Linked DNA regions of Homo sapiens: all the other regions are linked to region 3. The links come from fine-mapping of genetic effects on gene expression. A gene starts in region 3. Each other region holds a variant in brackets. All regions are shown on one strand. Distances are from middle to middle.

Evidence for each region. PIP is the estimated chance that this variant, and not a neighbour inherited with it, causes the effect.
Region 1: its variant is the best candidate, but not a certain one, in a credible set for the expression of MMP24OS in whole blood (TOPMed, PIP 0.90).
Region 2: its variant is the best candidate, but not a certain one, in a credible set for the expression of MMP24OS in whole blood (TOPMed, PIP 0.89).

What each region holds. Positions count from the first base shown.
Region 1 is chr20:35,002,559-35,010,703 of GRCh38, forward strand. It overlaps TRPC4AP (transient receptor potential cation channel subfamily C member 4 associated protein), which reads right to left. Exons shown (of 19, transcript NM_015638.3): 12 at 7,629-7,730; 13 at 6,106-6,189; 14 at 4,992-5,082; 15 at 3,877-4,017; 16 at 3,137-3,245; 17 at 1,900-2,012; 18 at 852-1,058; 19 at 1-725. The coding sequence ends at 588. Among named protein-coding and RNA genes, the nearest start is that of MIR499B, 16 kb to the left of the region's middle. The variant C/T (reference allele first, on the strand shown) is at 4,939.
Region 2 is chr20:35,232,572-35,240,743 of GRCh38, forward strand. It overlaps MMP24-AS1-EDEM2 (MMP24-AS1-EDEM2 readthrough), which reads right to left. Exons shown (of 15, transcript NM_001355008.2): 3 at 3,510-3,620. All of the region lies in intron 1 of MMP24 (matrix metallopeptidase 24), which reads left to right. Among named protein-coding and RNA genes, the nearest start is that of MMP24, 10 kb to the left of the region's middle. RefSeq lists an enhancer at 6,262-6,401. The variant AG/A (reference allele first, on the strand shown) is at 4,716.
Region 3 is chr20:35,274,454-35,282,625 of GRCh38, forward strand. It overlaps MMP24OS (MMP24 opposite strand), which reads right to left and starts at 3,669. Exons shown (of 2, transcript NM_001355003.2): 1 at 3,556-3,669; 2 at 1,899-3,479. The coding sequence starts at 3,476. The coding sequence ends at 3,261. MMP24-AS1-EDEM2 (MMP24-AS1-EDEM2 readthrough) reads right to left here and starts at 3,669. Exons shown (of 15, transcript NM_001355008.2): 1 at 3,593-3,669. It overlaps MMP24 (matrix metallopeptidase 24), which reads left to right. Exons shown (of 9, transcript NM_006690.4): 9 at 1-2,545. The coding sequence ends at 156. It overlaps EIF6 (eukaryotic translation initiation factor 6), which reads right to left. Exons shown (of 7, transcript NM_002212.4): 4 at 6,201-6,376; 5 at 5,489-5,665; 6 at 5,113-5,294; 7 at 4,465-4,753. The coding sequence ends at 4,744. RefSeq lists enhancers at 997-1,604, 1,605-2,212, 2,799-2,898, 3,019-3,188 and silencers at 3,319-3,538, 3,629-3,848.

The sequences.
Region 1 (8,145 bases), 270 kb before region 3:
GGGATGGAGGGAAAGGCCCCTCACTTCTGGGAGAACCCCCTTGGATGAACACAGCGGCCAATGAGCAAACAGAACCAGAGGAGCTACAGGAAAATGAGGCAGAGGGGCAGGCTTGGGGGAAGGCAGCATTCTCTGGTACCCACCACCCCTGCCCAGGGCTCAGAAGCCTTTGCCTGGGTCCAAAGGCCAGGGACAAGGGAGGCTTGGCTCACAGATGGGGGGTGGGGGTCACCCATATCTTCCTCCCCACTCTGGGACTGACTGACAGCCAAGAAACCGGCAGGAGCTCACACAGAGCTAATGCTAAATGTCCTCTTACCTCTGGGTGGCCCTGGGCCCCAGGGTTCTGAAGGAAAGGTGGGCATGGTACCCTGTCCTCATTATGGGGACTGAGGCTCTCCATGACCTAGGGCCCTCAGACCCAGGGGGACCAAGGGCTTCTAGGACTTCCCTCCCACCAAGCCTGTACCCAAAGACCTGGGGCAGGCAGAGAGCAGCAGGGAGGAACGGGAACAGGGCAGGGCGTGTGGCATCGTACCCACGCTCACCCACACTGGCCCAGCAGCCTCCCGAGGCCTGGCCCAAGGTCACTCCTCAGTGAAGTCCCTGTCTATGTCCATGTAGGGCTCCTCAATGTAGCTAACGAGAGCAGAGGGTGACTGCCGGTCCGGGTTCAACAGGATGGACACTGTCTCCTTCCAGTATGAGAAGCTGATGCAGGAGCTCTGGGCAAAGAGGGAGGGGCTGGGGGGCGCCTGGAGGACCCAGGTCAAGCCCAGCACCGGGACACCCCTCTGAGAGGCCCTGGGTCCGCGGCCCACCCATCACCCCCTTGAGGGTGGGGCACTCACGTTCTCTAGGCAGGTGCTGTCCTTGTCCTTGTGCAGGTAGTGCTGCTGCCAGAAGCGCAGCAGGTTGTGGAAGTTGTTGAGCAGGAAGCCGGGGTACTTCTTGCTGTGCTCCATCCGCTGCAGCAGCCGCAGGTACAGGGGCAGCCGCTCTTTCCGTCGGGCCAGCATCAGGATCACCAGGCTGGTGTTGAGGCAGCTGACGTTCTCCTGCAAGGCCACAGGCCCACAGGGTCAGGGGCTGGTGGGAGCCCCAGTGGCCCCTGGTGAACCTGGGTAGCCATCAGGCAGGGAGGAGAGTGGCCCCAGGCCTCGGGCCACCCACAGAGCTCTCCCTGCACAGAGGTGAGATAGGACTGGGGGAAGGGGGCCCCCAGCAGCCCCAGTTTCCTGACTGAGCACCTTCCTCTTCCCCACGCCCACCTCCCACCCCACCTGAGGCAACAACACCTGTCCCTGTCCAGACCTGGGCTCAAGCATCACTCCTTCCGGAAGGTCCGTCCCAGGCAGGGCTGGGTGCGTGTGTTGGGGCGGTTATCCCGCTTCAGAAGTGCCATTCAGCACTAGCCTGCGCGCCTCGGTGGGGAAAGAGTTCTGCCCCACTCACCATGCACTCCCACCTGGTGCTTCACCTCAGAACGGAACCAAAGACCACCTCTGAGAGGTGCTAAGATCACCCTCACTCTAGAAAAGAGGGGCAGGAGGCTCAGAGAAGGGAAGGCTGCATGACTATTCAGTGAGGGAGTTGGGCAGCCTCAGGTCCGATTCCAAAGCCCAGCAGGGCAGAAGGTGTGAGGGACGTGGACATGGGGGAGGCGGGGAGAGCACTGGCCTGCAAGTCAGCCTGTGACCTGAGGGCACTTGCGAGCCCTCCTTCCTTAGGCCCTGTCTGTACAATGGGACACTGATTCCTCCTGAGCACAGTCCTCAGAAGAGCTGGGTCTCCAGAGACGCACTTCTGGAGTGGGGGACAGAAACCTGCTGGGCACCAGGACAAAGGAAGTGGTTTCCAATCGACCTTCCCTGCTGTGTGTCTGCCGGGGCCTCTCACCTGGGTCAGCGTCTGCACGTGGATGATGTTGATGAGGCGGAAGAGGAAGGACATCTGCGTGGGCACCTGGGATATGTAGGCGAGCAGGCGGCATTCAGACAGTACCTCGGCAACTGTGGAGGGAGGCAGGGGTGCAGCAGGTCAGGCTTAGGCCCAGTGGCTGGGTCGCCCAGGCCTTTCGTGGAGCCCCGCTTGGGTCCTGACTCTGAAGCTAGGAGCTCATCATCAAAACAGCTTCAACGAAAGCTGACTGTGGCAGAAAGAAGGACCTCCAGCTGTCCTGCTACCAGGCAAAGCCATGTTCTCAGAGTGCCCAGGAGCACCCCACCTCATCCTCCAGAACCAAGCTCAGGGCAGCTCTCCCTCAGCCCTCCCCAGACTGGCTCCAGACCCGTGCCCTCCATATCACACACAGAAGAGTTCCCTCCACAGGAAGATGGATCCATGACGCTGCATTAAGAAAAACAACGCAAAAGTTCCACTCCTTCTGCAGAGGTCCTAGCGCAACTGGTTTTCCACACCAGCTCTCAGGTGAGTCCGGCCCAGTGCTGAGACCACAAGGCACAGGTTCTGCTCCGTCCACTAGTGTCGGAGCAACTGCTTCCCGCACAACTGGGAGGCAGGGCAATAACCGAAGGTACCAAAATCTGTGTGGCTGTTCCCCTGAAACAGACCCTCTGGGGCAGAAAAAGGAAGCAAACGGCTAAATTACCAACAACCGGGATACTTCTTGCTATCAATGACAGTGACCGTGACAAGGAACAAGTGCCTGACTTTTTGGGGGTGTGGGGGGGTCACAAACCCTCAGGAGAATCTGCTGGATGCCACAAGCCCTCTCCTAGGAAAAAAAGGAAACGCGTGCGCATACACATGGAAGTGCGTTAGCAAGTCCAGGAGGGTTCAGATGCCTGCTGCACCACAGGGCACCTGCGATGCCACGCACAGCACACTGAGGACGAGGGGGCCAACTCATCGTGCCAGGCAATACCAGCCCAGAAGAGGAAGGTCTTTTTCTGGTTTTCTTTGCATCTTGCTAGCAACAATGGATTTTCACCTTATTAAAGTGTTGAACAAGGCAGCAAAGCCAATTGCCCTGGAAGCCGCCACCTTGAGGCCGGCCACGTGGGCATCTGGTGCAGCTCCCTCAGTCATTCTTGTCTCCCTGCTGGAGACAGGGTGTCTGATGCCAGCATTCTTACCCTGCATGACTTGCCTTGACAGCCTGCCTTTCATGTACCTTTCATATCCACCTGGTTTTCAAATCGGTCCAGGGACAGAGTGACACAGCGCACCAGCATGTTGGAGTCCACCAGGGAGCTGTTGATCTGCTTCAGGAATACCTGGAACTATACAGAAACCAAGCTCACAGCAGGCAGTGGGCTGCTGGCCAGGTATGGCCATGGCCCGGGGGGATAGTCACTACAAGGGGCATCAGCGACCTCTACCAGCCCCACTGCTTCAGATAGGAAGACAGAGGCTCAGATAAGCTGAGGGACCTCCCCTCACCACCCAGGTACTAAGAGGCACTCCCCGGAATTCAGCACAGATCCGACACTCTCTCCAGTGGTTTTACGCTCAAGGGTGCTGGATTCCTTTAATTTTTACTTTTAATTTTACTTCAGCTAGCCTGAGCTGGGTTTCTGTCACACACACTCGGTGAGCCTAACACACCAGGCCCAGTCCCTCCCTACAGCGGCTCCCACCGTGGCACCCACCATGCTGCGTCACGGCAGGCGCACAAGCCACCCATTCCCACCCTCACTCCCTACCCACAAGCAGCCCCGGTTTTCATCCCTGCATTCCCAGGGTCTAGCACAAAGCCAGACAGAGCAGGTTCCAATGAATGTTTGCCAAAGACTGCCCAGACTCCCCCGTCGTCTCTAACGTAAAACCTGTGCCTAAAGCCTGGCAGACCAGGACTCCAGGTGAACTTCTGGACAACCCAGCACACTCCACAGAGCCCTGGGTTAACTTTACCTTTGCATCGGTGTTGATATATTTATTGAATCTCTTGAATGCATCAACGTTGAACTTCATCAGCTCCCCCAGGAGGTCAAAGTAACTCTGGAGCACATCCCTTGACTTACACTCGCTGTCCACAATGCAGTAAAGGATGTGCTGGGTGAGGAGGGACAGGGTGAAGGTGTCAACGTGGCTGCCCCCACCAGGGCCTGGCATGGAGCTCAGACCATGCATTGGCTTTGAGCAAGCATCCTGGGGATGGAACTGGCAACACTGTCTAGATTCTTGTCTGAGGATGCTGGTGGCTCCAAGGACAGGACCAGGCCTGACAGACCTCACCAGGAGGTGGAGCAGACTGGGAATGCAGCACAATCTCTCCCCTGCCCAGGGCGTACAGCTGAAGCCTGTGACCTGCTCTGTGGTCACCAAGATGGCCGGGGTGCTCAGCTCCTAGGTGAGGGGAGCTGTCATCACCAGGTCTAAAACACAGGCCACTGCCTAAGCACTGAGGTCATTCAAGTAAATGAAGGACAGAATTTAAAAGCAAAGGACACATTTTGACCCCATGGTTTGTCTTTGTGTTTATGAACGAAATTGTTTAAATAGAGTTTACACCAAAATACTGAGTTTTCATCAAGAGAATAAAGCCAATTTACTCCTTTATAAAGTTTTCTACATTTTCTTGAAGTTACATTGATTTGGATCAATTCTTTTCCACATGGATTTTATAATTCGTGGGTCAGTTTCTTGTCCATATGAAAAAATCTGAAAGACCAATTATAACTTTGGCCATTCTGCTCTAAGTTTTACTTTTTCTGAAGACCATTATTCAATAAAGGAAAATTAACTTTTAGTACAAAATATCTTCAGGGTCAAAATGCCTTGCTGGGTAACCAAACTGTCACCCTCCTGCATGGCCTGGCCACCCTCTAAACCTGTCACCCCGTAAGCACCCATGGGGAACCCACAGTTGGAAACCCAGGGCAAAATCTAAGGCAGCCTGCACAGGCATTTGGAAGTCACGAGATCTGCTCTGCTCCTGATGAACTGTTTGGGGCTCAGGACAGGACACAGCAA[C/T]GCGTGGGCTGGGGGGAGACGGAACCCAAGACACTGGCTGCTCCAGATCATACCTCCAAGAGGCCTCGCTTCAGCAGGAACATCTGGTCTGCATAGGAGGTGGTCCCTCGGAGGAAACTCTCCACAGCCCGAGCTTGCCAAAACCTGCGACCCAAATACTGGCTCAGGTGGCTAAGGCTGCCCTCTTCCGGCCCATGTTCAGTTCTCCAAGGGGTTGGGAGATGTTTGTTGCCTTTTCATGTACTCAACATTTACTGAACATCTACCAAGCATCAGGCTTCATCCTGGGCCTGGGGACACAGCAGTGCCCCCATCCTCACAGAGAGCCAGCTCAGTGGAGAAGTCTTCTATCTGGGTCTGTCTGGAAGGGGCTGTGTCACAGAAAGGGTAACATCTGGGATCGAAGGGCTGGCTCCTGCGAGCCCCCGTGAAACATACTCTAGGCCTTGCCCTTTCACAAGAATGGGAGGACGTGCAATTGAGGGGCCAGGAATGTGTGTGGGAAGCGGACGAACACATGCAGACAGGCCACTGGGCTCACAGACGATGGGCTGGCCTAGGGAAGTAGTGGTTGATGCTGACCGAGGGACCCAGAGGGCACAGCGGGTATCCACGACAGGGAGTTTGGACAAGGCACTGAAGTGACAAAGGCCCATGTGGGCATGAAGCCTCCTGACAGCTCACGCCCGGCCCTGATGGAACTCTACCTGTCCACTGACTTCAAGACTCATCTTAGATGTATCTAAGGACCTCAGAGAAGGTCTCCCTGTATTCACCCAGCCCCCAGCCCTAGCAGCGGAAGAGGCTTTCCTTTGCTGCTATAGCTCCTGGGCCAACCCTGGCTCCATTCCTTCCCACACTGCATTGAAACAGCACAGCTCTAGGGAATTCATGGCAGGGCCCGTATCCTAGTTCTCTCCCACCCATAAGGCACCAGCACAGAACAGGTGCTTGGTGAATGCTCGGTCACTGTGGGCTGCAGAAGAAGCTCTCACATACCTGTCGAGTCAAAACTACACAAGATGGCAGTCAAACCACCTCTCCCCAACAGTAATTGTGCTTCAGGAGGCATGGACGCTGGTGACTAAAGGAGGTATTCCTAACCTCCTGAGAAACACCTGGCTCTGCAGCCCCGCAGAATCGGCAGGTACTTTTCCCCAGACTCACCTGAAAGACGACTCTGCTGGCTCCTTCTTCATGACCTGCAGCAGACGAGTTAATAAGCCCCTCTTCCCATCACACACCAAACTCCTGAAATAGAAGAGAGATATTGGTGACAGATCTGAGAGGCTGACAGGGGCCCTGGGGATGGGTCATTCTGCTGGCTTAGGCGGTGAAAAACCATGGGGACATTTCCAAGTCTGCAGGATGCCTTCCTGCTCCAACTGGGTCCAGAGCCCCGGAGACCCCTGCAGCCACAGAATTAAACTGCCAAGTGCATTCCCACCACATCTCAGGCCAGCTTTCCTTCCCAGGCCAGAAACATATCCAGAATCAGACATGGCTTAGAACTGCCAGAGGAGAGCTGTTTATACCAAAAGTGTGTTGAAACAGGTCATGCCAGTCTGCCAGATGGGGAAAGACTCTGCCAATAGGGTGAGGCCCAGCGTACTCCGTGCCTGAGGTTCACTTCCAGCTGGCCTTGGGCAAGTGTCCACAACTCCAAGCCTCAGCTTCCCAGTCTATGAAGCAAAGGCAGGAGATGAGGAAATGACTCTGGCCCCGTCATGGGGGAAGGAAGACGGCCAGGCACGCAGGGGTCTGGGCCCTTCAAACAGAGCAGCTCTGCTGTGATCCACTGCAGACATCAGGGCAGGACTGGGTACAATTTTATTTGAATGAAGAGTTCTGCTACCTTAGAAAAAAAAGATTGGGAGGCCAGGAGAGGTGGTTCACACCTGTAATCCCTGGACTTTGGGAGGCTCACTTGAGGCCAGGAGTTCGAGACCAGCCTGGGCAACATAGTGAGACCCCATCTCTACAAAAAAAAAGTAAAAACACTAGCTGGGAATGGTGGCGCACACCTGTAGTCCCAGCTACTCGGGCGGCTGAGGCAGGAGAATCACTTGAGCTCAGAAGTTTGTGGCTGCAGTGAGCTATAACACCACTGCTCTGCAGCCTGAGAGAAAGAGCAAGACCTTGTGTCTAAAAAACAAAACAAAACAAACAAACAAAAAAGGTTGGGAAATCATGGCTCTTGTTGGATAAAGTCCACTGTATTCTGACGCCTGTGAGACTAGCCCCCCACTGCCTGGCTCCAGGTGAGGCAAACCTAACCCAGGTAATGCAACCTAACACTTGGCAGCAGGTAAGAGGCTTCTGTCTGTCCTGCTTGGCTGCAGATGCCACCAGGCAAGAAAGGAGCACATAAGCAAAGGGGCTGAATGCACGAGACAAGGCGGTGGGGCAGTGCGGAGCACACATGACTTCTGGCAGGTGACCTCTCTGAGGCTCACCTCATCTGTCAAGTGCAGGTACTGATGGGGCTCCCCTCCTAGGGCTGCTGTGAGGCTCCAATGAGAAAATGCAGGTGACATGAATACAATGCCTGGCACACAGGAGCCCTCAGGACACTGTAGCTGCATGTGAGAGAGGACACGCGTGCATACCTGGATGTGCTCACCGGTGAGCCCCCGGGGAACGTGGGCAGCCGGGATGGGCTGAGGGAAAAGCTGCACCCCTGCACTCACCTGTCGGTGTTGAGGACAGCTTCCACCTCAGGGATGTTGGCCTTGAGAGAGATGGCACTGAGTTCATTCAGCTCCTGGTTGTTGAGTAACAAGTACTTGTTCCTGAAACAAAATGGGTTGGAGGAGGTAAAGGACAGGAACTGGGGCTGCTGGGTCAGCACCAGGCTAGTGTAGGGAGTCTCCTGCCCACTTCCTGTGGACAGAATCTGAGAAGCCACCAGGCACTTTCCTCTAGCACCTCTCACTCCAGCCAGCACCTGCAGGAGGGAACTCTGGGCTCTCAGGCAGTGGAATCTCTCCCTGGCCCCACCCCCATCCCCGACCCCTGCCTGCCACATTCATCGACAAGGCCCCTTCCCTCAGCAGCTCTGGGCCTTTCTCTTTGCCTACATTTCCACTTGTTTTCTCAAAGGCACCAACACCTCAACAGGTCCAATCACACTCAAGCCTGGCCCTGCTGCAGCAGTCCCACCAAGCACCACGGTCACACATCACACAGAGGCCTGGTTAACTGTGA
Region 2 (8,172 bases), 42 kb before region 3:
AAGGTGGTATCTGAGATGAACCTTTGAGGGAGGAGAATGATGGAGAAGGGTGAGTGGGGCAGTCCAGGCAGAATAAAAAATATGAACCATGGCTCCACAAAAATGCATGGCATGTTTAGGAAACAGTGGATAATTTGATGTGCCTGAATCATCAAGTTACTTGCTGTTTCCAGTAAGAGTGTATAAGGAGAAGAGGCTGGAGAGGGAGACTGAGAGCAGATTGTGCATTTGGCTTTTGTCCAAAGGCTGAGGGGAGTCATTAAAGGTTTCTGAGCAGAGGAGCGACCTGCTCAGAGCCATGTTGAGGAAGTGGAGGGACTGGAGTTTGTTCCTGAGTTGTTCTGGCTGCTGGCTCCTGCCCTGAATGCTTTTAAGCTTTCTTAGCACAACTTAGGGGCGAGTACTCATTTTAGGGCTCAAGTGACCCGCCCACCTTGGCCTCCCAAAGGGCTTACAGGCATGAGCCCTGGCCTTGCCTGTTAGCAGTAATTTAAAGACTCAATTCTATGCCACAAACACTTACGAGGCATAAAGGGCACCAAAAGTACTTGGCCAGAAAGTCAGGAGTTGTTCTTTACTCCTTTCTCTCTTTATACATATGTATGTATAAAGATCATTTGAGGCCAGGAGTTCGAGACCAGCCTGGCCAACATGGTGAAACCCTATCTCTATTAAAAATACAAAAAAATTAGCTATGCATGGTGGTACATGCCTGTAGTTCCAGCTACTTGGGTGGCTGAGGCACAAGAATCACTTGAACCTGGGAGGCGGAGGTTACAGTGAGCCAGGATTGAACTACTGTACTCCAGCCAAAGCAAGACTCTGTATCAAAAATCAATCAATGAATCAATCAATCAGTCCACTCAGGAGTCAGTTATATCTGAAGCCTATATGGCAAAAACTAATGTTTGACAAAGCTGGCTGGTGATTTTCCAATATATATTGTTATTTTATGCCTTTCTGAATGACTGAAATATTGAATAATAAAAAAAATTAAAAACAAACCAAAATCTGATCACCTTACTCCCACCCTCACCTGGCTTAAAATGACTCTTAGGACAAAGATTATACTATTATTACTGTACTACTATCACTTCTTCCTTTTAGTTTTATTATGGAAAACTTTCAAATGCATATGAAAATGGAAAGAACAATATTATAAACTCCCTTGGACGCAGCACCCACAAGGATCACTTGAGTCCGGGAGTTTGAGACCAGCCTGTGCAACATGGCAAAACCCCATCTCTACAAAAAAATACAAAGAGTAGCTGGGTGTGGTGGCATGTGCCTGTAGTCACAGCTACTTGGGAGGCTGAGGCAGGAGGATTGCTTGAGCCCAGGAAGCTGAGGCTACAGTGGACAGAGATCACACCACTGCACTCAAGCCTGGGCCACAGCGCAAAACCCTGTCTAAAACAAAAACAAAAACATGCTTAATGAAGCCGATGAGGCCCTGCATGACTGAGTCCTTCCCATCTCTCTGACTTCCTTTTATACCACCCATTCTCCCCATTGGTCACTAGACTCCAGTCACCCTGCCCTTCCCTCTCTTTTTCTAATATACAGGCTCCTTCCCATTCAGGAATTCAGTAAGGTACTCTTTCCTGGAGTCTCATTCTCAGCCTTCACCTAGCCTCTTCTGTTCATTCACAGATGTCAGCTGAGATGTCATGTACTCAGGGAGGCCATCCCTGATATCACAGCCTATATCTCCTGCCACACACTTTTGTAGCTCCTGGTTCTTCTCTTTCATTCCACTTATCACCACTGTAATGAAATGTTTAGTATTTCCATGTCTATCTCTCCCACCGGCTGTAACTTCCATGAGGATGAGTTCAAAGGGGACTACAGGCATGTAAACCATTATTTATAATGTAATACAAAATATGCTATAAATGAGGATACATATAATGCCATTGGGAGCACATAGAAAGTCCATTTAACCCCAGACAGATAGCCCTCCCTGATGAAGTGGCATTCAAGTTGCATTTTGAAGTAGCGCACCATGGGGAGGCCAGAGTACATATGGGAAAGGAGTTCTAGGGAGAGGGAATGAAATAAAGGCACAGAGGCAGGACTCTGCAGGATATGCTCAGGCAACACAATTAGGTCAGTATAGCTAGAGGTTGGGGTACTTGAGGTGAGCAATAAAGGGTAGAAGGTACAGGACAGAACATGAGGCTGGCAGAACCAGGCATGGTGGCTCATGCCTGTAATCCCAGCTTCTCAGGAGGCTGAGGCTGGAGGATTGCTTGAGACCAAGAGTTTGAGGTCATAGTGAGCTATGATTGTGCCACTGCACTCCAGCCTGAGCGACAGAGCAGAACCCCATCTCTACAAAAGAAAACAGGGCTGGAAAGGTGCATTGGCATCACATTGTAAGGGTTGTTGTGTCATGCTAAAGAATCTGGACTTTAAGACTGGCAATGAGGAACCAGAAGATCGGCTTCACAGTCAATCCACTTAGGCTAAAATAATGGAACTTTTTAACATGACTTACAGGTTATTTAGTTCAACCATCTCCCTGTTGCAGTTAAGAAACTGAGACTTGGTCTGGCTGTGGGGCTCACATCTGTAACCCTAGCACTTTGGGAGGCCAAGCTGGGAGGATCACTTGAGCCCAGGAGTTTGAGACCAGCCTGGGCAACATGGCGAAACCCTATCTCTACAAAAAATACAAAGATTAGCTGTGTATGGTGGCATACACCTACAGTCACAGCTACTTGGGAGACTGAGGCAGGAGGATTGCTTGAGCCCAAGAAGTTGAGGCTACAGAGAGCAGAGATTGTACCACTGCACTGCAGCCTGGGCCATAGAGTGAAACCCTGTCTTAAAAAAATTAGGCCAGGTGCAGTGGCTCACACTTGTAATCCCAGCACTTTGGGAGGCTGAGGTGGGTGGATCACCTGAGGTCAGAAGTTCGAGATCAGCCTGGCCAATAGGGTGAAACCCTGTCTTTACTAAAAAATACAAAGAATTAGCTGAGCGTGGTGGTGGGCACCTGTAATCCCAGCTACTTAGGAGGCTGAGGCAGGAGAATCACTTGAACCCGAGAGGCGGAGGTTGCAGTGAGCCAAAATCACGCCATTGCACTCCAGCCTGGGTGACAAGAGCAAGACTATGTCTCAAAAAAAAATTTTTTTTAATTTAAATTTTAAAAACCCTGAGGCCTGGCCACTGGTCTTTGTCTTCACTTTTCCCTTTTCTTAACTCACCAAGAAGTCGAGCCTCAGGGGACAGAAAATTAGCAGATCTGCGGGAGGGCCTTGGACAGGGTGAGGAAGACTAAGGCCTCTCCTTTTCCAGAGAGTGAATGAGACCATGGCCACACTCCTGACTGTGGGCAGAGGCCTCCCCAGAACTGCAAAACTTGGACATCCCAGTGCTGACCCAAAACCCCAAATGTGCCACCTCCCCGGGTATGGTGATCATCTGGCTTGTGGTGGCCTCCTGGGAGTGGGCCAAGGACATTCTGCAGAGCGCCAGGGAATTCCCGCTAGTGCACTTACCACCCACTCAAGAGCCGATGGCAGCCAACAGGCAATGCTGCGCCATTAAGGTGTTTGTCAAGAAGCTAAGCTGGGCATTGTGGGCGATCCTGAGGGCCCTTTTTAGATTGGCTGTAAGTGAAGAAAAAAAACAGCATTTGGAGGCAAACTAGAGCTAGTGCAGAGGGTGTAGCATGACAGAAAACCCTCTGAGAGGCAGAGATGCTTGCCTCCATGTCTGGCTTCCTTACCAACTTGCTCTGTGATTTTGAATAAGTCATTTCCCCTCCCGGAGTTTTCTTTCTCTCTTCTGCAAAACAAGTATGTTAAATTAGATGATCTCTGAGTATTGGTGACCAGTGCATTTTCTAGATACCTGAATGATTATGCCTTCAGTATGAAATTTTACGAATTAGTTATATAACTCAGGTGGGCTCAGCAGCAAGGCTGGGACCTCAGTTATATGGGTAGAGGAGGAAGCAGGGTTTTGGTGGGACAAGAAGTGGAGGGAACTGACACAGTGATAGGACCCATCCCTGAGGAGTCACCAGAAAGACCCAGTGATTTGGTCTGGCAGCAATAACCAAACGTGGTGGTCAAAGAGGAGAAATGACTTATTAAAAATCACCAAGGGCTGGGTGAGGTGGCTCACACCTGTAATCCCAGCACTTTGGGAGGCTGAGGTGAGTGGACCACCTAAGATCAGGAGTTCGAGACCAGCCTGACTAACATGGTGAAACCCTGTCTCTACTAAAAATACAAAAATTAGCCGGGCATGGTGGCGTGCACCTGTAATTCCAACTACTCGGGAGGCTGAGGCAGGAGAATCACTTGAACCCAGGAGGCAGAGGTTGCAGTGAGCCAAGATCGCACCACTGCACTCCAGCCTGTGCGACAGAGCGAGACACCATCTCAAAAAAAAAAAAAAAAAAAAAATCACTAAGAGCAAGTTGGTGGGGGAGCTGGGAATGGAGCCAAGCGTCTCTGCCTTTCAGCGGTTCTTTCCAAGGAGTATGGGAGCAGGAATAGACAATAACATTGTACGAACACTTACTATGTGCCAGAATCTGCTAAATGCTTCTTGCTGCTGTAACAAATTACCACAAACTTATTTCTAAAAGCAACACAGACTTGTTTTCTTACATTTCTGGAGGTCAGAAGTCCAAAATGGGTCTTGCTGGACTGAAATCAAGTTATTGGCAGGGCTGCATTCCTGCTGGAGTTTCT[AG/A]GAGAGGATCTCTTCCTTGCCTTTTCCAGTGTCTAGAGAATGCCCGCATCCCTTGGCTTGTGGCCCCTTCTAGCAGCAGCAGCACTGCTATAACCTATGTCTCCCAACACCTTCTCTGACTCAAACCCCCTGCCTTCCTCTTATAAGGATGCTTGTGATTTCATTAGACCCACCTGGATAATCCGGGCTAATCTCCCCCATCTGAAGATCCTTAACTTAATCATTTCTATAAAGTCTCTTTTACCACATAAGGCAACATATTCCCAGGTTTTGGGGATTAGGATGTGGCTGTCTTTGAAGGGTCATTATTTTACCTACCACAGTGCATCATCTCACTGAGTCCTCCTAACAGCCCTTCTTTAAACATCTGTTTAACAGATGAGGAATGTGATGCTTAGAGGAGTTAGGTCATTTGCCCAAGGGCACTCTGCTGGAAAGAGAAAAGTTAGGTAATATTTGGTATGTGGTGGCATCTTGGTCCCAAGTGAGCTGTCTTTTTAGATAGGACCCCATTCAGCTCCCAAGTGTATTGAGAATACAGTCTAACTCTGTGGAGGAGGCTGTCTAAGAACTAGGCAGGGAATCTGAGACCCTGAAAAATAGATTAGGGTCACAGCAGTCTCAGCTTAGAACTTGAATGCTAGAGAGAGAAACTGAGGGAAAAAACCCAGTTGTAAGCATTAAGCCAATATAGCAATGGATGAGGAAGAATGATCTTAGGCCACCATTCATGCCTGCATACAGTGATACAATAATATCTTAGTGTTGGGGGTTGAAGCTGCTGATGGACCATTTGCTCAAGTTAGGATTGACCAAGGAGATGGACAAGGTGAGGGACTCAGAGATAACTGCAGAGCCGAGGCACAGAGAGCAGAGGCTGGCTACTGAGCCAGTGCTAATAGAAGACTTTTCTAAATGGGTAACATAGTCAATTATAAGTGACACTGAACAACATGTCCATTTCGTCATGGTTATGGCAGGCCCTGTGCTAGCTGTTGGGGTGACAATGATGAGGAGGACATATATGCATTTTAGAGTCAGGAGGAAGCGACAGATATTTCAACATGTGGTTACAATACAGTGTGGTAAGAATTGCGATAAGGAAACAGATGGGGGACTGACAGGGATGTACAAGGACCTTCTGAAATAGATGTAAGAGGCCAAGGCTCCCCAAAGAGGGAGGAGGGGAGAGTGAACTGAATAGAAGGAACAATACGTGTAAGGGCCTGGGAGAACTGGAACTCACTGGAACACAGAGCACTAGGTGGGGAAAGATAAAAGGGGTTGCAGAGGGAGTCAGGGACCATATCATAAAGGCTCTTAACTGCAGAGATGGAAAGCTCTTAGAGCCACCTCAGGGCATTCACACTTACTGTTCCCTCATCCTGGAACACGCTTTCCTAGTAGCCACAGGGTCCACTCCCTCACCTCCTTCAGATCTCTTGCTCAAATGTCACCTGCTCAAAGAGATTGTCCCTGATCACCCTCCATAAATAGCTGTCCCACTCTCCATCTCTCCAACCGGCTCTATTCTTCACAGCACTTATTCCCACATGGTTCTTCCACTAGACCATAACTACTAGAAAGTAACTAGAATGCTGTTTTTGGTTTTTGTTTTTGTTTCTGTTTTAGACATGGTCTCATTCTGTCGCCCACAGCCCACTGCAGCCTCCAACTCCTGGGCTCAAGGATCTTCCTGCCACAGTCTCCAGAGCAGCTAGGACTACAGGGGTGTGTCACCACGCCTGGCTACTTTTTTCAATTTTTTTTTTTTTTTTTAGACAGAGTCTTGCTCTGTCGCCAGGCTGGGGTGCAGTGCCGTGATCTTGGCTCACTGCAACCTCCACCTCCTGGGGTCAAGCGATTCTCCTGCCTCAGCCTCCCGAGTAGCTAGGATTACAGGCGCACGCCCGGCTAATTTTTGTATTTTTAGTAGAGATGGGGTTTCACCGTGTTGGCCAGGATGGTCTCGATCTCTTGACCTCATGATCTGTCTGCCTCGGCCTCTCAAAGTGCTGAGATTACAGGCATGAGCCACCACGCCTGGCTGTTTTTCAATTTTTTTCTTTTTTTGTAGAGAGGTGTCTTGCTATGTTGGCCAGGCTGGGACTAGAATGTTTTTGTTTGCTCTTTTAGCCCTAGCACACAGTACTTGGTACATAGTAGGTCCTCAATAAATATTTATTGAATGAAGGGACAGAAATAAACATTTGATGTTTAGGAGGTAGGACCCATAGTTCTTTGGTAAAAGACTAGTGTGCTGTGGCTCACGCCTGTAATCCCAGCACTTTATGAGGCCAAGGCAGATGTATCACTTGAGCCTAGGAGTTCAAGACCAGCCCTAGCAACACAGCGAGACTTCGTCTCCACAAAAGATTAAAAAAGAAAAATTAGCCAGGCGTGGTGGCAAACGCCTGTAGTCCCAGCTACTCAGGAGGCTGAGGTGGGAGGATCACTTGAGCCCAGAAGTTCAAGGCTGCAGTGAGCCATGGCTGAGAGCGAGACCCTGTCTCAAAAAAAAACCAACCAAACAAACAAACAAAAAAGGAAACTGGATGTAGGCAGTGAAGGAGAGGGAAGAGTCACAGGTCATATGAGGCTGCTGGTTTGGACAACTGGGTAGCTGATGGTGCCATACCCTGACATAGCACAGGCATATTGAGCTCACTATTGTCTGAGATAAGGCATTGCACTCCAGGAGTGTGAGGTATAGGAAGTCCTGGGAGGGGGAAGGGCTGCCTGTCCAACACTCTGACCGTACGGAATATGCCTGAATTCTGCCATTTCTTAGCTTTAGGGCTCTGGATACTTGTAGGCACTGCCAGAGCTCTGCCTCTTGCCACCCCCATTGCCACTTCTAACCTCACCACCACCTCTGCTGTCTCCCGCTCTCTTCCCTCTTCTGTGCACATTTTGTTCTCCTTGGTATTCTCTGCTCTCTCCTTTCACTGCCACCACTCCGGGACTTCTCAGCTTTGGCTTCTCAGGAACCCAAATCCTGCCTTCTGGCCGGCAGACCAGTCACACCATATTGTCTATGATCTCTACGTCTTTGGCTCAGCCCAGCTATTTTGGTCTCTGCTTGCACTCTGAGATTTTTCTTACTTTCCTCTGGGTTTACACCTCTTTCTGCACTTAAAGGGTGACAGACATCTTAAGAGTTGGTTAACTGAGCTGTAAAGGTTAGACTTCTGACGTGGCTGATGATTGATTAATGGATCTAGGTGTAAAGAGATGAAAGCAAGGTCATTCTGTCTAAAAGTGAATGGGACTTTTTTCCTTCAGTGGGTTTTATCTTTTTTTTCAAATGGAACAATGGAACCTATTGCCTCATCAAGCAAGGAAGTCAAATCACAATAGATTGAATTTCAGCAAGTGTTTTTTGAAACCTCTAATAGATACCAGGAATTGTGCTTGGTGCTTTCAGTGTATTACTAAATCTTCCCAAGATGAAGT
Region 3 (8,172 bases):
GATGTGCCGGGCTCCGTGAACGCCGTGGCCGTGGTCATCCCCTGCATCCTGTCCCTCTGCATCCTGGTGCTGGTCTACACCATCTTCCAGTTCAAGAACAAGACAGGCCCTCAGCCTGTCACCTACTATAAGCGGCCAGTCCAGGAATGGGTGTGAGCAGCCCAGAGCCCTCTCTATCCACTTGGTCTGGCCAGCCAGGCCCTTCCTCACCAGGGTCTGAGGGGCAGCTCTGGCCAGTGCTCACCAGGGCCAGCAGGGCCCTAGGCTGGGGTCGTACAGCTGAAGTGGTGGGTGCATTGGCCTAGGCTGAGCGTGGGGCAGGGAATTATGGGGGCTGTGCCCCAGGGTGGGTGTCTGGCACCCAGCTGCCAGCCTTCTGTCCTGGGCAAACTACTCCCTACTTAAGGGAATAGGCCAGGCTCCATCCGGAGGCAGGGACCATGCCAGGAGGAGCCCCTGTGGTCACGGCATCCTGTGGTGTCCATGAGGTACCACAGCTCCACTCCTGGCTGGAACCCAGCACCCTCTGTGGGAAGCCAGCACTAGCTCTCATCCCCCATCCGGGAGATACCACCAGTCCTGGTCCCCTTTTGCCAACACCTGCTGGTCAGATGTCCCCCTACCCCCACCCCACTGTCCTCCAAGGCTACAGGACCCCTGCTTCTGACACAGTGAGCAACAAGCCTGGGTTTCCCTGCTGGCAGACGGCAGATCCCTCAGGAAACCTGCTCCACTTGTCAGGGTCTCTTCGGAGACCCAGGATTTAGGGTCACATGCTGCAGGCAGGGCTGTGGCCCAGCTGGGTCTGACAAGGACCCAGCTGTCACATCGTGAATATTTAAATGTCCTGTCACTACTGTCCCATTTTGCAAAGGCTGCTTGAGGCTTTAGGTGAACTAGAGGTGACTGTCTTGGTGATGAGGCCAGCATAGCGGCCCTCCCCCAGGCGACAAGGACCAAGGTGCTGCTAAGGCCACTCTAGCGCCCAGACACCCCAGTAGCTGAGCTCTGCTCCTATGGCTACAGAGCTGGGGCAGAAGCTGACCCCATTTCTGGAGGAAGATCCGAGTTTGTGACCGTCCTCCACTCCCCTCTATTGTCACTGTCCCCAGCTTTGCTCCAGTCTGTCACTTGCAGCCTGGAGCTCAGCCTCACCAGTTAGGTGAGGCAGAGATGGCTGCAGGGCCAACACTGGCAGAGCCTGGGAGTCCTTCGGAAGGGGACCAGGGCGTCTGAAGTGCTCAGTGCCCCCACTACTCTGAGGCCGACTCCAGCTACTCTGAGGCCGACTCAATCTCTCGGCTGGAAGCAGTGTTTTCCCAGAGCTTGGCCCTTGCTGACCTCGCTCACTGGGCCCATCTTCCCACACTGCTCTTAGAAGGACACCCCTACCGGTAGCAGCCCCAAGCTGAGGGGGCTCCCTTTTTGACCTTCACTGGCCCGCCCTTCACTGTCTCCAGCAGGAGTTCCTAGGGCTTGGCCTGCCTTGCTCCACAGTACGGCGGAGGCAGCCCTGCTTGTCACTGAGGAGCCCTAGACAAGGCCAATGGGTTCATCAATGCCCACTGGCTCTCTGCCAAAGCCAAAAAGGTGTCAGGCAGTCTCCAGCGTGCTGGCCGGGTCTCGGATGCCACCCCTGCTCACTGAGCCTGCATGGGCCTTGCCCCCGACCCTGTGGTCTCTGGGATTGGGGTCGGCTTACCCTGTAGCACAGACAGGGACTCCTGCTGCCCTGGGAGCTGTCTCAAGCAAAATCTCTTGTCCCAGAGGTGCCCATGTGGGTCCGCTGTGTCCCCTGTCATCATCCTTGTTTTTTCTCATTTTGGCCAAGGGCAGGCTCCCTGGGACAGGCAGGGAACAACTGCGGAGATATTAGTGATTCATAGGTTTGTACAGTGTTTTATACTTTGCAAAGCACTTTATTAGCTCACACCTGTCCACTCACATGAAACTCGTGTTAGGCCCTGGGAGGCCGACGGTAACTCTCACCGTGCCCTCAGATGAAGCACAGAGAGGTTGTTACTTGCCCGGGCCATCCAGTGGGCTGGCTGGGTCTTGTGTCCCCATCTGTGGACCCCTCTAGGGTCTGAGATGAGATGAGAAGTGTCTCCTGTATCCACCTCTTCCTGGCCTCCCTTCCCCCACTTCCTGGTCCCTGTCCACTCCTCAGGTTGGTGCTCTCACTTCTTGAAAGCTCTAGGCACCCCCGCCTCCCGCCAGGCTCCCCATTGGCTCCTGGCAGGCCAGCTGAGAATGAACAGGAGATGGAGGCAGGCAGCCCAGGCTGCAGAGGTGAGGGATGTGGGGCCAGGCCCAGAGGGCTCAGCCTAGAGGCTTCCAATCTCAGATTCTCCTGCCTGTGGTCATCTGTTTGTCCATCACCCCAGGACAGGGCAGACAGAGGGGCAAAGCACTGGGGGCCCCAGAGCCTAGCTTCCCCTCAGCCTGGGGGACATCACAGCATTTCAGTGTCAGTCACATTTTAAACTGATCAGCCTTTGTATAATGTTTTTTAAATCATTTCTAAATAAAACAGAAATACAGAGTGTGTCATTTCCCTGGGATGAGGGAACAAAGATCAGGTTCCAAGAGTAACCTTAGGACGCTCTGGGAAGAGAACCGGGTCCTTTGGGGTGTCTGGGAGCTGCCCACCCATCTCCTCTGCCAGACCGGCGGTCAGATAGCCTCCCTCTACAACAGGCTGGCCCTGGGGGCCCAGGGTTATTGGGGTTCCAGGAACACAGCCTGATGATGCCTCCTTACGATCCAGGATGGAGAGCAGCCCCCCCAGGAGTATGGGGAGGGTCACTGTGGCACGGGCTTCTCCATGACCTGGGACATGACCTGGGACACATAGTCAAGAGCACGGTTATCAGCAATACAGATATTAATAAAAGGCAGACGAAGTCAGGAGGTCAGCAACTTTGCGGGCTTACCAGGAGGCCTGTCCTGCCTCTGGAAGCCAGCGACAGAGAGGGATGCCCCCGACCCAGCCAGCCGGAGAAAGGGATGGGGTGGTCACGAAGGTCTGAGCTGGGTCTGGGTGTAGGCTGGGAAGCAGGCTGGGGTGTAGACTGCGAAGGCGGCCCTGCCGGGACTTCTTTCCAGTCCCCGGCGACCTCTTCGAATTCTCTGCTATCTCTGGGGAGCCTCGGGTGGGAGGGGGTGTAAGAGACGCAGGGACGTGGGGAGAGGAGACAAGGCAGGCAAGAACCACAGGGGACGGCGGACAGACGGGCGACATCCTGCGGAGGACGCCGTCAGTACCAGGAAGTGCAGGCGATGAGGAAGCGCACGTCGTCCAGCGGCCCCCACGGGCTGGGCTCGGGCTGGGGCTGGGGCTGGGGCTGGGGCTGGGGCTGGGGCGGATGCCGGGGCTGTTCCGGGCCCTCCGGCGCCGCAGGCTGGGGCTGGGGCTGGGGCTGGGTTTGCGCAGGCTCCGGGGCGCCGCGGCCGCCGCTTAGCTGAGCCCCCATGGTCTGCAAGAAGAGAAGCCCTTTAAGGTCTGGGTCGCCGGGACACCCCGCTAGGGCCCCGCCCCGGCTCTGCCCTCACCTCTCGCAGCCAGACCCGCGGGTCTCCCGGAACCCACCTCGGCGTCGGGAGGAGCTGGCGCCGTGACGCCACCACCGCGTACCGACCTCACCCTCCGTGCGTTGGAGCGGAAAGAAGGGACTCGACCCTGTGCTTCGGGGCGGGGCTCCGCGACCGTCCCCCGCCAATCCCGCCCCAGCGCCTCAAGGCCCCGCCCCGCGCAAGGGGACGGAATGCACCCCAACAGCCTCCAAGACGCCCAGGCCAGGAGGACGCTGGGAACCCGCTGCCCCGCCCCACGCCCACCCAGGAAAAGACCTGCAACCTCCATCCACCTTAGTCAAAGAATGCCCCGAAGCCAGATGCCCCAGAGCTCTCACAGGGGACTTGCCCAGCTCAGGGGAAAATCGGAACGGACTCTCTGCCTTTCAAGGCCAGAGAAGACCGGCGCAGAAGTCGGGTGAAAACTGTGAGAACTAGACCGGGCGCCGTGGCTCACGCCTGTAATCCCAACACTTTGGGAGGCCGAGGCGGTGGGTCGCTTGAGTTCAGGAGTATAAACCAGCCTGGGCAACACAGTGACTTCGTTTCTACAAAAAAATAAACGAGGCGAGAGGATCGCTTGAGCCCAACAGGTCAAGGCTACAGTGAGCCATCCTTGCGTCACAACACTCCAGCCTGGGTGACAGAGGGAGACACTGCCTCAAAAAGAAAAAAGAAAAAAGGAGAACTGTAGTGGAGAGTGTTTCTTGCCCCAGGATGAAGCCTCACATCCTGATGGTAGAGGAGAAGGGAATGGCGTGTGTGGAGGTGGTGAACTGGGTTGGGTGTGTGTTGTGTTCATCCCACCCTATCTTCCCAGAATGCTGGAACAACTGGAGAGTGCAGGGATTGTACACAGGCTGAGGGCCCCAAACATCACATTCAGAATGGCCCGGAGGGAACTGCACTTTAATGGGGTGGCACAGGACAGCAGAACCCTCAGCCAGCAGCCACAGGGCCTGCCAGCCAGCACAACAGAGCAGGTTTTTGCAGTAATGATAGATCCAGGCGATAAGCACAGGTGGAAAAGGGTTGGGTGCCCAGCCCCTCAGTCCCAGTGAGCTCTCTGCCACCTCCCTGCCAGCATCCGGTACAGATTGGGCGGAATGTGGAGAAGGTTGGCCACAGTCCAGAGCCAGGAGCCCATGGAACAACTTGGAAGGTGACTCAGGTGAGGCTGAAGAGAAAGGAAAGCGCACGGTCAGTAGCTGTTTCACAGAGCCCACCTCACTCTCAAGTGAGGTGCCTGCCTCAGCCCTCATCCCGGGACCAGCTCTGACAAGCTGCTCAAGCAGCTACTGCTCTAGTATCCTAGCCCTGAAAAACCACAAAGATGAGGATTAGCAGATGCTCAAGAAATATTTTTTGAATATGCTGGCTCTTATCTGCTCAGCAGTGTACAGATATGCTCTCACACTCGAGAAGCTACCAGAACAAACTGGTAGGCTCCCATTCTAGATGACATCTTTTCCCCATACTCTCAAAATGCAAGTTAACCCCCAACCCTGAGCAGAAGAAAGGAGAGGCCCCAGGTACCTGTCAATGAGGGAATCCCGCATGCTGGTGGCAATGGTGCTAGGCTGGGCTTCATTCAGCTTGAAGACACTCTCCACCACTGACAGCTCTGTGCTGGTTGTGTCCAGGCCACAGAAGGCACACCAGTCATTCACCACCATCCCAGCAGCAATCACCTCACTGCCTCGGTTCACAGTCCCCGCCTGCCAAGGGATGGGCTCAATGTGAGTCACGGCACCAAATTCTCTCCCTCCTCAATGAAGACTCTCCCCAAACCCTGCTCCTCCCTGACCTGCAGCCCCAGTCCCAAACTGTGGCAGGTAATGACCCAGACTCCCAAACACTAGGCAAAAGGATCTGCCTCGGGAGACGGGGTTCAGAGGACAGGAATGCTTACCACAAGGGGGACTTGAAGAAGAGAGGACAGCTCATCCTGGTCTTCAATTGAAGTCTTGGGATGCACCAGCCCTCCCTGATTGCTGAAGACACAGTAGCTTCCTACTAGCACCTGGTCGGCCACTGTCTGTCTGAAGACTTCCACCTTGAGCACATCTGCCAGAATTTCTTCTGTCTCCTGTCAATCAAAGATATTGTGTTCAGGGCTCAGAACTTACAGCCCCAGAACCAAGGTTCTCCATGCCCAGAAGCATCCAGGCCTTGGCTCCCTGAGCCCCTCATTTCTCCTCTGTACCTCATATGAAAGCCTCACCCAGAGAAAGGAGGAAGTACAGCTTAGAGCAGAGTCAAGGGCAGCTGTGAAGCCCCTAATATTCATGCATGCCCTGAACAGCTGGAGGCTGGTCTCAATATCACTTCTTTCCCCTCTCACCCACAGTCAAAAGTTCAACAGTCAATCACCTATCCTGGCCCAGGATGCAGGACTGGATGGTTCAATCTCCCCAATCATGAAGGATTCATACCCTCCCCAGCTTCTTTCTGACACTTGATAAGGCCTCTGTTATCACTATTCCAATGAGTACCTGAAACTCAAGAGCCCATATAGAAAAACCACAGGAGAGACCCCTAATTGCTGCCTGTTGGGAAAGAACAGTGGCTAACCACTGACTAGGATGGCCCTGTGACTCTTGGGTCAAGTTGGGCTGCCTCACCCTGTCCAAGTCTGGGTGGACCAAGGCCACGTAGTCATTGCAGGTGGTGACATTGCCCAAGGCTGAGAGCCGCTCCTCCACCCGCCTAATCTGCACTGTGTCTGGGAGGCTGTTGCGAATGTGTTGCAGCTCCTGGTCGGTGGTATTGTTGGGTACCAGGAGACCGTGCCTGTTCCCTGGAGAAACCCAAATTAGAGGGTGAATACACAAGATGCCTGCTGAGCCCTAGGGGCTGAGGATACCACTCAGCCCAGCCCAATCAGCTTTCCCAGGAAAGCTTTAGGCCCAGAGCCCAGCCCTCCAACCCACTGATCTGGAAAACACCCAGGGCAGGCCAGAGACCACCCAGGAATCCCAATAAATCCTGCCTACTTCACCATCACCAACTGGGAGGGAAGCTGAGCTCTTGGCATTAGCTGTATATTTTGCTACTTAAAAACTGAGCTGCCGGGCGTGTTGGCTCACGCCTGTAATCCCAGCACTTTGGGAGGCTGAGGTGGGCAGATCACAAGGTCAGGAGATCGAGATCGAGATCATCCTGGCTAACACGGTGAAACCCCGTCTCTACTAAAAATACAAAAAATTAGCCAGGCGTGGTGGCGGGCGCCTGTAGTCCCAGCTACTCGGGAGGCTGAGGCAGGAGAATGGCGTGAACCCGGGAGGCGGAGCTTGCAGTGAGCCGAGATCGCGCCACTGCACTCCAACCTGGGTGACAGAGCGAAACTCCGTCTCCAAAAAAAAAAAACAAAAAAACAAAAAAAACTGAGCTAACACTACACACATAGCAGAATGGCTAGATTATTATTTTTTAAGGCAGAGTCTCACTCTGTCACCCAGGCTGGAGCGCAGTGGTGCGATCTCAGCTCACTGCAACTTCTGCATCCTGGGTTCAGGTGATTCTCCTGCTTCGGCCTCCTGAGTAGCTGGAATTACAAGTGCGTGCCACCACACCTGGCTAACTTTTTGTGATTTTGTAGAGATGGGGTCTCACTATGTTGGCCAGGCTGGTCTCGAACTCCTAACCTCAGGTGATCCGCCCACCTCGACCTCCCAAAGTGCTACGATTACAGGTGTGAGCCACTGCCCCCAGCCAGAATGACTAAAATTTTTACAAGTCATCAATTCCAAGTGTTGGCAAAGATATATGGAGCAACTGAACTCTCATACTGAGACAGGAGTGTAAGTTGGTCAATCACTTTAGATAATTATCTGGCATCATCTGCAACTACTACTAAATAGTCACATAACCTGTGACTCTGCCATGCCACTCTTAGGTATCATATACCCAGTAGAAATATGTACATGTGTTCACTAAAAAAACATAGCAGCACTATTACTTTTTTTTTTTTTTTTGAGACGGAGTCTTGTTCTGTTGCCCAGGCTGGAGTGCAGTGGCACAATCTCGGCTCACTGCAAGTTCTACCTCCCCGGTTCACACCATTCTCCTGCCTCAACCTCCCAAGTAGCTGGGACTACAGGCACCCGCCACCACACCTGGCTAATTTTTTTGTATTTTTAGTAGACACGGGGTTTCACCGTGTTAACCAGGATGGTCTCGATCTCCCGACCTCGTGATCCGCCCGCCTCGGCCTCCCAGAGTGCTGGGATTACAGGCGTGAGCCACCATGCCCGGCCAGCAGCACTATTCCTAACAGACCAAAGTGAAAACTGCCCAAATGCACTGTCGATGGAATGGATGAATACGTTGTGATATACTTACACAAAACACACCATACAGCAACAAGAATGAACAATCTACAAATACACGCCAATCAATTTCTGAATTCCAGGTCACTCCCATCATAAAATACACAAGGACTAAGCTAAAATCTCCCTTGTTGTCAGAACTTGCTTCAAGTCCTAAGGGCATGGTTAGAGATCAGAGTATTTTAACTGAATAGGAAAATACTTTGAGGTCACTAGGCTTAAGTTTTTGTTGTTGTTGTTTTTTGTTTTTTGTTTTTTTTTGAGA